4 linked regions of the Homo sapiens genome follow. The protein of the gene in region 3 interacts with the protein of the main gene of each other region in a pairwise test. Each region holds a gene or a part of one and is shown on either strand. Other genes may lie near its edges.

The links. The genes of interacting proteins can lie anywhere in the genome.
Region 1: the proteins of MMGT1 (region 3) and STX6 interact in binary tests that used the Homo sapiens proteins (3 or more experiments, as listed by UniProt).
Region 2: the proteins of MMGT1 (region 3) and TMEM14A interact in binary tests that used the Homo sapiens proteins (3 or more experiments, as listed by UniProt).
Region 4: the proteins of MMGT1 (region 3) and STX8 interact in binary tests that used the Homo sapiens proteins (3 or more experiments, as listed by UniProt).

What each region holds. Positions count from the first base shown.
Region 1 is NC_000001.11:180,988,371-180,991,870, forward strand, and holds part of STX6 (syntaxin-6), read right to left. Parts: intron 1,740-3,500; coding exon 1,614-1,739; intron 1-1,613. UniProt on the Homo sapiens protein: SNARE promoting movement of transport vesicles to target membranes. Targets endosomes to the trans-Golgi network, and may therefore function in retrograde trafficking.
Region 2 is NC_000006.12:52,681,113-52,684,100, forward strand, and holds part of TMEM14A (transmembrane protein 14A), read left to right. Parts: intron 1-700; coding exon 701-802; intron 803-2,965; coding exon 2,966-2,988. UniProt on the Homo sapiens protein: Inhibits apoptosis via negative regulation of the mitochondrial outer membrane permeabilization involved in apoptotic signaling pathway.
Region 3 is NC_000023.11:135,960,088-135,963,988, reverse strand, and holds the end of MMGT1 (ER membrane protein complex subunit 5), read left to right. Parts: 3' UTR 1-3,401; downstream 3,402-3,901. UniProt on the Homo sapiens protein: Part of the endoplasmic reticulum membrane protein complex (EMC) that enables the energy-independent insertion into endoplasmic reticulum membranes of newly synthesized membrane proteins.
Region 4 is NC_000017.11:9,506,321-9,509,820, forward strand, and holds part of STX8 (syntaxin-8), read right to left. Parts: intron 1-3,500. UniProt on the Homo sapiens protein: Vesicle trafficking protein that functions in the early secretory pathway, possibly by mediating retrograde transport from cis-Golgi membranes to the ER.

The sequences.
Region 1 (3,500 bases), on a different chromosome or scaffold from region 3:
GCAATTAAAATCCATCTTACCTGGTTCCAAGCCCAGCACTCTAGCAGCTGCTAGTTTCTTTGCCAACTTGGGACAATTCACATTCAGAAGCAAAGCCCAGAAATCAAAGGACCAGACCGTTGCCTCTGAGAACACACTGCTCAAAAGGCTGGATTGTTAAGCTACTGATATCTCCTGCTGATCCAACTTGTGAACAGTCAGCGGGGCTTGAAACCACCAAGAGAGATTTACTCTGGTTGGCTGACGTCCAATAATGGAGCAGACAATGGTTGAAAGCACACGTGCAGATGACCATTGAGACATGGGGATGTTTGGGAGGAGGAAGCCCATTGCCAAGATCAAGGTCTCAATCCACAACAGACTGCCACAGCTTAAATACAAGAGAGTCTGGCAAATCTCTGGATGTGGGGAAACTATGCAGTCTTTCCTCTCTCTTCAAGGACAAACGAAAGGATTCCCTGTGGCAATAAGTTACCTCAAGGACAACTACTGACTGACAAATATTTACTTTTAGTTGTGTTGCATTCTTCTCACTTTCTATAGAAAAAAAATTTCCTGGGTTTAATAGCAATTTAAGTAGACAACTGGTTAAGCAGACATACTAATGTAAAGAACAAAAGAACATATAAACTACATGTATACATAAAACACAATATTTAAGAATCAATAGTTTCAATGGGTACATGCTCCTCAAATCCCCAGACACATTATCATTAGCTTGCTTTTATTAATACAGCTACATATCAAAGGCATCAACAGACATAATCAATTTCATTTTCCTTCTACCCCTTAACCTACACAAAAGCAGTCATCTTTACATATAACAAAACCAACCAATAGGCCGGGCGCGGTGGCTCATGCCTGTAATCCTAGTACTTTGGGAGGCTGAGTCAGGTGGATTGCCTGAGCTCAAGAGTTCGAGACCAGCCTGAGAAACAAGGTGAAACCCCGTCTCTACTAAAATACAAAAAAAAAATTAGCTGGGCGTGGTGGCGTGCACCTGTAGTCCCAGCTACTCAGGAGGCTGAGGCAGGAGAACTGCTTGAACTCGGGAGGCGGAGGTTGCCGTGAGCCGAGATGGTGCCACTGCACTCCAGCCTGGGTGACAGAGTGAGACTCCGTCTCACAAAAAAAAAAAAAAAAAAGAAACCAATCAATAATTTTCGAAGAAAAAAATGAGAGATCTTTCTGAAAGTGTCTTTGCTGAGATGGACAAAGGTCTGTTTTTTCTAAGAGAACTAACTGAGCTTGGTTCTTTATTTTTTTAGAGAAAGGGTCTTGCTCTGTCACCCAGGCTAGAATGCAATGGCATGATCGAAGCTCACTGTAGCCTTGAACTCCTGGGCTCAAGGATCCTCCAGCCTCAGCCTCCTCAGTAGCTAGGACTAAAGGTGTGAGCCACCACGCCTGGCTGAGCTTGGTTCTCTTGAAGCAGTCACACTGTGAAGATTTTGAAACCCTTTACATATGCAATTATTAAACACAATCAACACAGGACAAGCTCTGGCTTACCCTCCTTGTCACTAAGCCACAAGACCCCATGGCTGGCAAAGGAACTAAGGGGGTGTCTTGTTTCCCACTGGCCCGTCCTAAGTCTGGGGTCCTTGGGGTACCTGCTGCTGTGCCTGCTGCTCCTCAATGAAATGAGAATTGGCTCTCTGGAGCTCTCGGTCCAGACGCCCATATTTATCTGTTGTTCCAGTGCTCCAGTTCTGGCTGCCACTGTCTCCCAGCAGTGCCTGTGTGAGAAGAACAACCAGAGGAGTCAGGAGAAACAAACAATTACTATCTCTGAACAAGTGATGCATCAAGAGTGATATAAAGAGTTTTCACATTTCTTGTCTATTTTCCCCTGGGCAAGGCTTTTATGTAGTGGTGTAGGTTGGTGCCTGGGTGGTACTATTTAAGGAATTCCAGGAAGGGCCCTCTATGTCTTTAAGCTCTCCCAATAGGCCTCACAATGGGCTTTGTCCCCTTAAAGTGCAAATAAACGTCTGCTAAATCAACAAACACCCATCTATATACTGTGTTATAATTGAAAAGCATTCAATCTCTTGTAAAAGAGCTCTTCCTGGTACCTGTGGAACTTCAGCAACCCATAGGTTCCAGTCAACCTGATTCCGAAGATCTAGAGTACTTTTTTAAAAAAAGTGTGACCCAGGGGAAGTTGTGGGTTTTTTTGGTGGGGGGAAAGGGAGAGTTCCCTGGAATGACAAGAAGGTAAGCCATAGCCCTTCACACACAAAGGCACAAGAACCATCAATGTCTGTTAAGTTTAACCCATGAATAGAATCCAGGGTCCTTCAGGCTTTCCAGATGACAACTGGGGGTTACTTTACAGGCAGGTATGACCACAAGGAATGCCTGACCCTGGCAACCGAGGCAAGGGCTGCCCTAAAGTCAGAGTTCTCCACCAGGGCTCCCAGACACAAGGGTCGGGTTTCCCAAGTATGAATTCAAGGAAGTTTGCAGCCATAAATGGGTATGTCTTCCTCACATGAAGAAGACAGGCAGGAATGTGAGAGTTCCATCTCAGCAGTTGGTTCTGACCAGATCCCCACAAGCCTTCCTGACTGGTCAAAGTAACTGCTCACACCAGCCCCGCAGGCAAGAGCCAGAAGACGCTAGCAACTAAGACTCTTTTTCCTTGTAGAGTTGCCAAATTTTCCTATCGGGTAATTTAAAAAAAATCTCAGGCACTATTAAAAGCCTGCCTGGTTACTTGGTTCTGTCTGAAAACCCTTCCAACAGCCCCATGACCTTCCTCCATACTGACACTGACCTCTTCTCAGACTGCGAGGGGTGAACTCCATCAAATGGCCAGACTTCAGGGGCTAGGATCAGGGAAGCTCAGTTATTAGAAGCTTTTCTTACAAGAGCTTCCAGGGGCCCAGAGCTTCAGTCCAGCTGGATGGTGACTGTCTCTGGTGTAAAGCAGATCCAAGGCTTTTTGTGGGTGGCTCTGCCCTGACCTGGTCTTAGGGCTATCAAGACTGAAAAGATCCTGCTCATTATGATCCACACTCTAAGGACCTCTATGGAAGACATGAGGAAATAGTGACAATTTTTTTAGGGTCAGAAAAATGCTATAATGCATCACTGGCCTAAGGACAGAGAACTGGGACACCACCAGGGCCTTGTGTGCTCCTGAGGTCACAGGGCTATTTTTCCTACGTTTTCCATGGTGTACACTTAGGTAGAGCTAAGTATAGGGCAAATCATCCACGTTTTATTGTGAAATAGCTTAAAGTTCATCAGTCTGATCCCAAATGTTTGTGATAATAGGATAGAGATTGAGAGAGGGCCCAAGGACTGGAAGATGCACCTGTGTGTGGGTGCCAGAGCAGGGGTGCTGGTGAGGCAAGGAGCAGCACAGAGCCTGGCACCTGGCACAACGTGGCAAGGCCCATGCCTGCTGGAGTGCTTAGAGAGCCCTGATCCTGCTATTCCTTGAAAATTTGCAACTTGACATTTCACTCATAGCCTAAAACAAAATTCCA
Region 2 (2,988 bases), on a different chromosome or scaffold from region 3:
GTCACTGCCATGTAACCCACTGTCCAGTGCACAGAAAGTGCTTGGTGTTTGCCACAGTGCTCTGGGGTGGGTATGTGGGTTGGGGGCTGGGAGTGTACTGGTGGGGTGAGTGCATGGGATAGGGACTGGGTAGCTGGGGTCAGTATTCTGATTCTTCGTCTTTCTTGGTAGGGCCTCTATTAGTCCTTGAGTCCTGACATCTTGAGGCATGAAGGTTTGTTAATTATTCAGGATGGAACCATTGCTTGGTTTGTATAGCACTTCTGTCTTTACCTCTATAAACTAAAACTACCTTTGCATCTTAGTTTTTATCATCACAACCTCATTGCAAAAAGGAGGCAAAGAGAATAGGAAAAATTAAAAAAGAAGGGCTTAAGGAAGTTAAATAATTGTCCAAGATCATGTAATCAGTGTCCAAGCCACCAGAACAAGGCAGGTTTTCTTATTTCCCCAAGTGACATCTAACCCCACTGCACTGCTGTGCCCTCAGGGCTCCTCTGCCTTGCATTTGGGTTCAGCAGGAAACAGTCATCTCCTAGAAAGTATCCATGAAGAGGCCTATTCTTAATTTGGCTTTGTCCAGTTACTGTGCCCAAGTAGGAATACATTTGAAGGTGCCTGTATCATACTAGAAGTAATGGAATGAATTCCTTTCCTTTTGGGATTCTCTTTGTGATCTCATATTTTTTTCCCCTTCCAGGTGGTGTTCCGTCTTTGATTGCTGGTCTTTTTGTTGGATGTTTGGCCGGCTATGGAGCTTACCGTGTCTCCAATGACAAACGAGATGTAAAAGTGTCACTGTGTAAGTAAGGCATTTTTCCTGGTTACAGAGACTCAAACATTGGAGGTGATCTTTTTGATACCCTATGCTAGATATACTAGAACATATTTAGTCAAATGGCAAATGGCCATATGCATGTGTTGAGGCTGAATACAACACTTATTCCTTTCTAGAAAGACCTGATAAAAAATGATGGTACTGCTACCAGGCCTTCCAACTCAGAAGAATATTTCTATAAAAACTCGTTACTAGAAAAATTGAATTAGGAAAAGCAAGGAATTATTTTCAGATTTTCTGCTAACTCTCCTAAATGCATATTTAGCATAGTTTTTACATTGCTGTGGAAATAACTAAAAAAGAGACAGCCTTGCATTATTTCATTTAATTCACAAACATCTTTTAGATTCTGCACTGCCTTAAGACTTAACCTAAAAAAGCAAGGCTGACGCTTTTTTAGCTACTTCCCTTGTTAAGTTTAATGGGAGAATATCCACAGAAAAAATGGAAACCTGTGTGTTTAAAGTCACCAGGACACTTGACTTTCATCTCACTTGAAAGAGATACACAGTGAAGATTTAGAAAACCATACCAAGGACATTTTCTCTAGTTGATTTATTATTCAAAGTGCCTTGGTCGTGTATGGAAAAAAATATAAATGAAGACAAAATTGTTCTATATTTGAAGGAGAGTGAGAGATTTGGGGTTTTTTTTTTTTTTTAGTTATTTTTATAAGGGGCTAGGGATATTTTTAGTAATGAGGTTGTGTTAGATGTATCAGCCAGATGTAGTGATATTAGGATTTTTATTGATATGCATTTAAATAGTTCACAAGTATTTATTGTCAGTCATTTTATTTTTTATATCAATAAACAGTTTTTCTTTGAAAGCTGTTTTTAAATTGTGGCATTGATGTCCTAATCTCTTACATAAAACTACCTCTCCCTTCATAGATACAGCTCCAAAAAGGCTGACATGATGCTTCTGAATAAAATACTATTGCTTAGACTATTATTTAGTCTCCAGGCATCAAATTCTCCAAAATGGGATGCTACAAAACAAAACCAATCAGCCTTCTTTTTAGTATTTTTTTTTTATTAATCAGATCTTACTTGTAAAAGATACATTAACTATTTTCTTTATATTCAGTTAACTGAACATTAATGAGTGTCTCCTGTGGGTCCAAGTGTGCTACTTAGTGTTTCTGAGGGAAGTTGAATAAAGCTCAGTGCTAGCCTTCAAGGCGTGTTCTTTGAATAGAAATTTAGGTTAGAAAAAGACTTTCTTAGCTAGGCATGGTGGCTCATGCCTGTAATCTCAGCACTTTTGGAGGCTGAGGCCGGTGGATCACTTGAGGCCAGGAGTTCAAGACCAGCCTGGCCAACATAGCAAGACCCTGTCTCTACTAAAAGTACAAAAATTAGCTGGATGTGGTTGTACATGGCTGTAATCTCAGCTACTCGGGAGGCTGAGGCAGGAGAATTGCTTGAACCCGGGAGGTGGAGGTTGCAGTGAGCTGAGATCACGCCACTGTACTCCAGCCTGGGTGACAGAGCAAGACTCTGTCTCAACAACAACAACAACAACAACAACAAAAAAAAAAAAAAGAAAAAGAAAAGGTCTTTCTCTTTTGAAGATATTTCAGGAATGGATTTTAACATGTTTGTTTACCCAGAAACCTTTTCGGCGAGGTAGATGATGATGAAGTGTTTCTTTGTTTGTTCTTTTGTTGTTTTTTTGAGACAGAGTTCGCTCTTGTTGCTCAGTCTGGAGTGCAGTGGCGTGATCTCAGTTCACCACAACCTCTGCCTCCCCGGTTCAAGCAATTCTCCTGCCTCAGCCTCCCGAGTAGCTGGGATTACAGGCATGTGCCACCATGCCCTGCTAATTTTTTTTGTATTTTTAGTAGAGACGAGGTTTCTCCATGTTGGTCAGACTGGCCTCAAACTCCCAACATCAGGTGATCCACCCATCTCTGCCTCCCAAAGTGCTGGGATTATAGGCGTAAGCCACTGGCCCGGCCATGAAGTGTTTTAATAGAGCACTTTATCTTTTCAAGACAATGGCAACTCAGTACCTATCCATAATAGTTGTAATGTTAGAAAGCTTTAAATGGTACCCGCTGTTTTCCCACAAGCATTGATAACATGTTTGAAACTCTGGTTCATGAATTAGTTTGGTTTTCAGTTACAGCTTTCTTCCTGGCTACC
Region 3 (3,901 bases):
TCTTCAAGTTTTCCATCTTCACTGTATGTTGCTGAAAGTGAGGATGAGGATACAGAGTTGATATTTTTAGAAACAGTAATTTTACTTTTAAGGAAATTGGCTAGCTCTTTGAGCTAGAGAGCTGTAGGAAGCTCAACATTTCTTTGTAGAGAACGTTGCTTTTTTTGGATTGTACAGGTATAAAAACATTGCTTTTGTTGAATTGTATAGGTGTAAAAAGGGAATAACTGTATGCAGGTTTGAAAAGGAAATGTGCTTTAGGCATGAGTCATAAGATGCCATTGTACTTGTAGGCATTTTATTTTCCTTTAGAAATGGACATCAGCTCTTCTCTTCTGACTGGTAACACATAGCCCCAAAGCATGAGATTATTTTTCATTGGGTTTTTATTGTTGTTTAGTTTTGGTTTGTTACGCCAGCCCAGTCTGTCTGCGGAACACTGACTCTGCTCTCTAATGAGAACAAAGTTAGAAATCTGCCGATAACCTAAAATAATTTAGAAATGAATTAAAAATGTGAAATCGGGTTAAAGTGATGATGATAAAATAGCATGCAAGAAACAAGCTCCTTCCATCAGACTTGGCTACTGTTTTCTTCTGGTACGATTTGGTTTGGAAGAGCCTCTTGTTTCCTTCTCTTTGGGGTATGTCTTCGTTTCTTAATATGTTTGTAACATTATTGAGATATAATTCACATACCTTACAATTCACTTATTTTAAGGGTACAATTTAGTGGTTTTTAGTGTATTCACAAAGTTGTGTAACCGTGACCACAGTCAATTTTAGAACATTTCGTTACCCCAAAAAGAAACCCTGTACCCTTGAGCAGTCACCTCTCATTTTCTCCCAGTGCCCACCCCATCCCCGAGCCCCTGGCAACCACTAATCTATTTCTCTCTCTGTAGATTTGCTTATTCTGGTCATTTCATATAAATGGAATTCTACAATATTCGGTCTTTTGGGACTGGCTTCCCAAATATGATTTTCTATATGGAGTGAGAAAATTCTTCTCATCTTGAGAACTCTTATTGCTGTGAAAGGGAGTGGTTGGTAAAATCAATAGATTTCAGGCAAGAGGGCCAGATACCTAACAGGTTTTTCTCCGTGAATCTTATGCTGAGTAGTTTTTCCTCATAACCAAGCATTTATGATATATTACTACTTATAATACTGTGGCTAGTCTCTAGAATGGATGTTGAAATCTTTGCCTCCTCAGTCGGGAAGAGTCCTGCTAAAAATCAGGCTAAAAATCAGGCCAAAAATCAGGCCAAATGACTTGGCAAATAATTGACAAAGTGGTTTTCACGTGTGTCTATCTTTGCTAGCAGCTTGTATACCTCAGGCCAGGTGAGCTCCCCAAATTTCTTTTTTCATTTACTCCAGTGAGTTTCTGCTGTCTTTTTCAAGTATGTACCATAGGACTTAAAGGTGATTTGGATGCGTTGTAACACTGCTAAATATGCTAAGTACAGAATTTTATCTACAGTACTGTGAGACAGTCAATTATTGCCTAGGGTAGTTCAAAAATATGATGTGAGCTAGTTAAGCCTTTGCTTGACTGATTTCAGTGATATTCAGAAGTGTGTACCAATCAAGGCTCTTTAAAATACGGAACGACTCACTTAATAACCAGGGAACCAGCCAAATACTGTGCAGCCGCAGAATATGCATATCAATGAGTTGGAGGTGATTATTCTCTGTAACTCCCTAATGATTGTTTTCTAAGCATTGTGGCTTCTCAGTGGCTTGACAGCATCTTCCTGGTTGTATGTGGCCTGTTTACATGATGTATTGAATAATGTTGTTTGTTGTGAGCATCAATGCCTGTAACACCAAACTAAACACGTGTTTTTGGGATATGTTTCCAATCTTTAAATGACCTTGCCCTGTCCAATAAATAAATGATTGTCTCACCCTGTTTTTGGTAGTGTTTTTTGGGCTTTTTTTTTTTGGACTTTTAATCTCATTTCTTCTGCTTTTCTGTCCCCAGAAAAATGTAAGAGCTAATTTTATGACTGTATTTTTCTACTGTGATGCTGTTTTACTGAATTCAATGGATAATTTAATTGTACATGTAAAATCTTACTGCAGTTTTATGTTTTTAATAGTCAAAATAGAATGTATAATCTTGATGATGTTTATAAATCATCAAATGCCCTTTGGGGTGTAAAAATGGGTTCTTGAGCAGCAGTGTCTAATGATTCCATCACAAATTTGTTATAAAGCCAAACTCCCATTGAAAGTGTCACTTTATACTTAATAGGAAATCGTTATGATTAAAGCATCAAGGAAGCAAATATAAAGTTTAATGAAAATCCAAGGGGAAGTTCTAAATTGCAAAACTTGGCACTTATCTACAGTATTTTGAAAAATAACACCACCGGTATTCAAACCTACCTAGGAATATCTCAAAATAACCTGTTAATTAAGTGTTCTTAGAAAGGGGAGTGGGGGCAAGAAAGATGATGTATGCACATGGCGAAAAGATCAGATGGTACAGAAAGGTATAAAAACTTGGTCCCTTCCCTCCTACCCTAATACTCCTCTCCAAAAGTAACCAGTTTCAAGTGTCTTGTACTCACAGGAAAACAATTTTTTATTTTTTATCAGCAAATTTGTACTTTAAAAATTTCACATTAATAGAATCAGACTATATATACTCTTCTGTACCTTGCTTTTTTTGCTACCTGTGTTTTATGAGATCTTTCTGTATCAGTATATATAAAAATACCTCATTATTTTTAGCGGCTGTGTGGTATTCTAATGTTTGAATGTGTTACAAATGTTCAAACACTGATAGGCTCTTTAGGTTGTTTCCAATATTAAATCACATTGTGGTGAATATACTTGTACATATAATGAGTTTTTATTCTACAGTGTACCTAGCAATACAATTGCTGGATCAGAGGGTATTTTTTATTTTCAGTTCAGTAGTTACTGCCAAATTGTCCTCTAGAAATCTTTGCCCAGTATGCTTCCACATATAATGTATGAGAATGATTATTTACCAAACCCATGCCAATACTGGGTACTAAACTTTTGAAGTCTGATCATGTGAAAGTGAATAAATGGTATCTTGCGTTTTAATGAAGTTCTAATGCATTTTAATGAAGGTCTGGTACATTTTAATGAAGGAGATGGAACACATTTTCATGTTTATTGATTACTGATATTTCCTGTGAAATGTGTAGTCATGTTCTGTTTTCTATTAGGTGGTATGTGTTTTATTGATTTGTATGAGCTTTTTGTAAGCTAAGAAAATTGGTCCATTGTCATGTTTAATAATATTTTCCTAAGTTTTATTTATGTAGTTAAACTTAGTCTTTACAGCTTCTGAGATTTTGCCTTGCTTAGAAAGGCCACCTTTGCATTTAAGAATAAATTTAATGTATTTTTCCAGTATTTTAAAGGTTTTTTTTTCAACTTTTAAATCTTTGATTCATTTGGAATTTGTCTAGGTAGTAAGAGTGAGGAGAGGATTCAACATTTTTCTCTCCAATAGCAATCTATTCTAACCCCATTTATTAACTTTTTCAACACTGATTGGAAAAACCATCATCCTCATTCATACATCAAATTTCCATATGTCTGGTTAGATATGCTTCTGGGTTCTGTAGTCTGTTGCAAAAAATACGAGTCTTTTAATTATTTTAAATTGTTATATATTTTTGTCTTGGGTATTGCTAGTCCATACCTCATTTTTAGGAATTTTTTCTAGTTACTGCATGTTTATTTTTTTCAGATAAGCTTTCATATCATTTTGTCCAAATCTAAAATTATATTTTCCCTGAAATTTAATTTTGAAAAATTTCAAATCTACAGAAAATGTGAAAGAAAATAGGATGGACACCAGTATACTTTTCATTTAGGTTCACCATTTTTAACATTTTACCACTGTTGCT
Region 4 (3,500 bases), on a different chromosome or scaffold from region 3:
TCAACAGATTCATGAAAAATCATAGAATAAATGATGGGTGGGACATCAGCAAGATGACTGATTAGAGTCAGCTGGTGCTCACCCGCTCCCCCCCCCCCCCACCCACCTTTCTTAGGAAAGGACTAAGGCAATGAATAAACAGCTAAGATTTGACTTCAGTGTGGGAAAGTGCTGAACTGCAGTGGGGAAGTGGAGAGGCCCCTGTGGTGACTGAAAGTCTAGGAGGGCAGCATGAAGGCCCCCAGCCTCTGTGGCCCCATCTCTTCCACCAGGACTGAGGAGGCCTGGACATATGAAGGCCTTCTCCCTGTGAGGAAAAGGTAAGCGGGAGATTCCCACCTGCCCCCACTGCCACTGCAAACACCTACAGTCCTTATTACAGGAGGATCCCCCAGTCCTTGCAAGTTCTGAGCCCAGTTTGGAGAGCTGCTGGGAATTCGTACAGTTGCACTGCCCCAGATTAGGAGCATTCCCCACTCCCCACCCACTCCATGAGCCAAGTTACTACAGCATGGCGCCATCTTTAGACCACAGCTCCCTCTGGAGTGTGCCTTCCTCTTGGGGCCAGTAGCCACTGCACCTTTCCAGCACTGGGACTCCATTTTCATGCCACCAAAGCTACACAGGTGGCTGAACTCCACAACCCAGGGCTCGGGAATGGCTGTGACTCTGGTCCTGCAATGAAGGGAAACCACCCTCTGCACTTTCAGCCACAGAAACAGTCCCACCCAGGGCAAACCCACTCTTGAGCCAACCAAACTGCTGCATACCCTCCTGCAAGCAGAAGGCCCTGAGCAACTGACAGGCTAGCAGAGTGACTACGCTCCTGCATCCCGGATCTATGAAACAGTCGGGCAGTGCAGCCCCCTACAGACATGCCCCCGGCCTGCCCAAAGGCCCCACACCTCAATCAGGGCCTGAGAAACAACCCTGCAGGCTGCCCCTGGCAGACATACCCCCAGGCCAGCCAAGTAGCCATGTGTCCATATCTCAGGCCTGAAAAACAGCCCATGGGTCACCCCTAGCGGCAACTCCCCTAGGCCAGCCGAGCAGCCTTGTGTTCATATCCCGGGTCTGAGAAGCAACTCCTCAGGCCACTCCTGGCAGACATGCCCCCGGGGCCATCAAGCAGACTTATGCCCACCTCTCATGCCTGAGAAATAGCCCTGTAGGCTGTCCCCAGCAGGCATTCCCCACAGGAGAGCTGAGCAGCAGTGTGCCCATGTCCCAAACCTGAGAAACAGCCCAACAGGCCACCTCTGGCAGGCATACTCCCAGACTGGCCAAGCAACCAAGCAACTGTGCCCTCAGCCAGAGTAAGGGCACCAACCCCAACCCCAGCAAGTGAGACCCCAAGTTGGACAACCCACCATGTGAACGCATGCATCGCTGACCTGACAAATAGCCCGGTGAACACATCCCTGGCAAAGTCATGCCACCACCACCACAAAGCCTCTCAGCTGAGGCCACTGAGACACTCACAAATGTCACTGGCATGGATTACAGTTAAAGAAACTACACAAAAACTACACTACTATGCCCACCTGGAACCAAAGCCAATGCATCCCACTGAACCAACACCCCAAGATCCATTCATACAAATATTTCTTTCCCTGCAAAACCTACCACATAAAATTGGAAGAGGCAATTATTCCACCAGATGCATAGACATCAACATAGGGATACATCGAACATGAAAAAGCAAGGAAACATGACACCTCCAAAGGAATACAATAATTCCTGTGTAATAGACCCCAATGATAGAGAAATATACAAAATGACAGAAAAAGAATTCAAAATAGTAATCTTACAGTGAGATACAAGATAATAGAGCTAGACAATTTGATGAAATCAGGAAAACAATTCATGACTTGAACAAGAAATTCAACAAGAAGATAAATACCATAAAAAAGAACAAAACAGGTATCCTGGAGTGGAAGAATTCAATGAATAAGTAAATAAGTACAAGCTAGAGCTTTACCAAAAGACTAGACCAAGCAGAATTTTATTTATTTATTTTTTTGGAGACAGGTTCTTACTCTGTCACCCAGGCTGGAGTGCAGTGGCATTATCTCAGCTCACTGCAACCTCCACCTCCTGGGCTCAAGTGATTCTCCCTCCTCAGTCCTCCTGAGTAGCTGGGACTACAGGGGCATGCCATCACATCCAGCTAATTTTTGTATTTTTTGGTAGAGATGGGGTTTCACCATGTTAGCCAGGTTGGTATCGAACTCCTAATCTCAAGTGATCTGCCCGCCTTGGCCTCCCAAAGTGCCAGGATTACAGGTGTGAGCCACCATGCGTGGCTGAATTTTTGAACTTGAAGACAGATCTTGTGAAATAACACAGAAAGATGGGGGGAAGAAAAAGTAAAATGGAATGAAGAAAGCCTACAGAATTCATGGGACACTATTAAGTGAACAAATATTCACACTGTAGGTGTTCCAGAAAGAGAAAAGAAGGGCAAATGTACAGAAAACATTGAATGAAATAGTAGCTGAAAACTTCCCAAGTCTTGGGAGCTTCCAGATCCAGGAAGCTAAAAGAATCCCAAATAGATTCCATTCAAACAGGACCCCTCTTAGGCACATTAGAGTCAAATTATCAAAAGTCAAAGACAAAGAATTCTAAAAACAGCAAGAGAAGGACTGGATGTGGTGGCTCATGCCTGTTATCCCAGTACTTTGGGAGGCCGAGGCTGGCAGATCACGATGTCAGGAGTTCAAGACCAGCCTGGCCAACATGGTGAAACTCTGTCTCTACTAAAAATACAAAAAAATTAGCTGGGCATGGTGGCAGGTGCCTGTAATCCCAGCTACTCAGGAGGCAGAGGCAGGAGAATCACTTGAACCTGGGAGGCGGAGGTTGCAGTGAGCTGAGACCACGCTACTGCACTCCAGCCTGGGCAACAGAGCAAGACTCCATCTCAAAAACAAACAAACAACAATGACAAAAAGAAACCAGCAAGAGAAAAGCATCAAATCACCTATGAGGGAGTTCCCATTAGACTAATAGCAGATTTCTCAGCAGAAATCTTACCAACCAAGAGAGAATAGGATTTTATGTTCAAAGTACTAAAAGAAAAAAAAAATCTGCCAACCAAGAATATTACATGCAGCAAAGATATCCTCCAGAAATGAAAGAGAAATAAAATCTTTCACAGACAAGCAAAAACGAAGGTAATCCATCACCACTAGACCAGTCTTACAAGAAGTGCTCAAGGGAGTATTACATCTGGAAGTGAAAAGATCATAACAGCCATTATAAAAACATGTGACACTATAAAACTCACTGGTAGAGCCAATATACAAAGGAAAAAGAGAAAGAAATCAAGCCTTATCACTTCAGAACACTACCCAACCACAAAAATAAACAGTAAGAGGAAGTAAGGAACAAAGGATATAGAAAACAGCCAGAAAACAATAAAATGACAAGATAAGTCCTCACCTATTAATAATAACCTTGAATGTAAGTGAATTAAATATCTCATTAAAAGACAT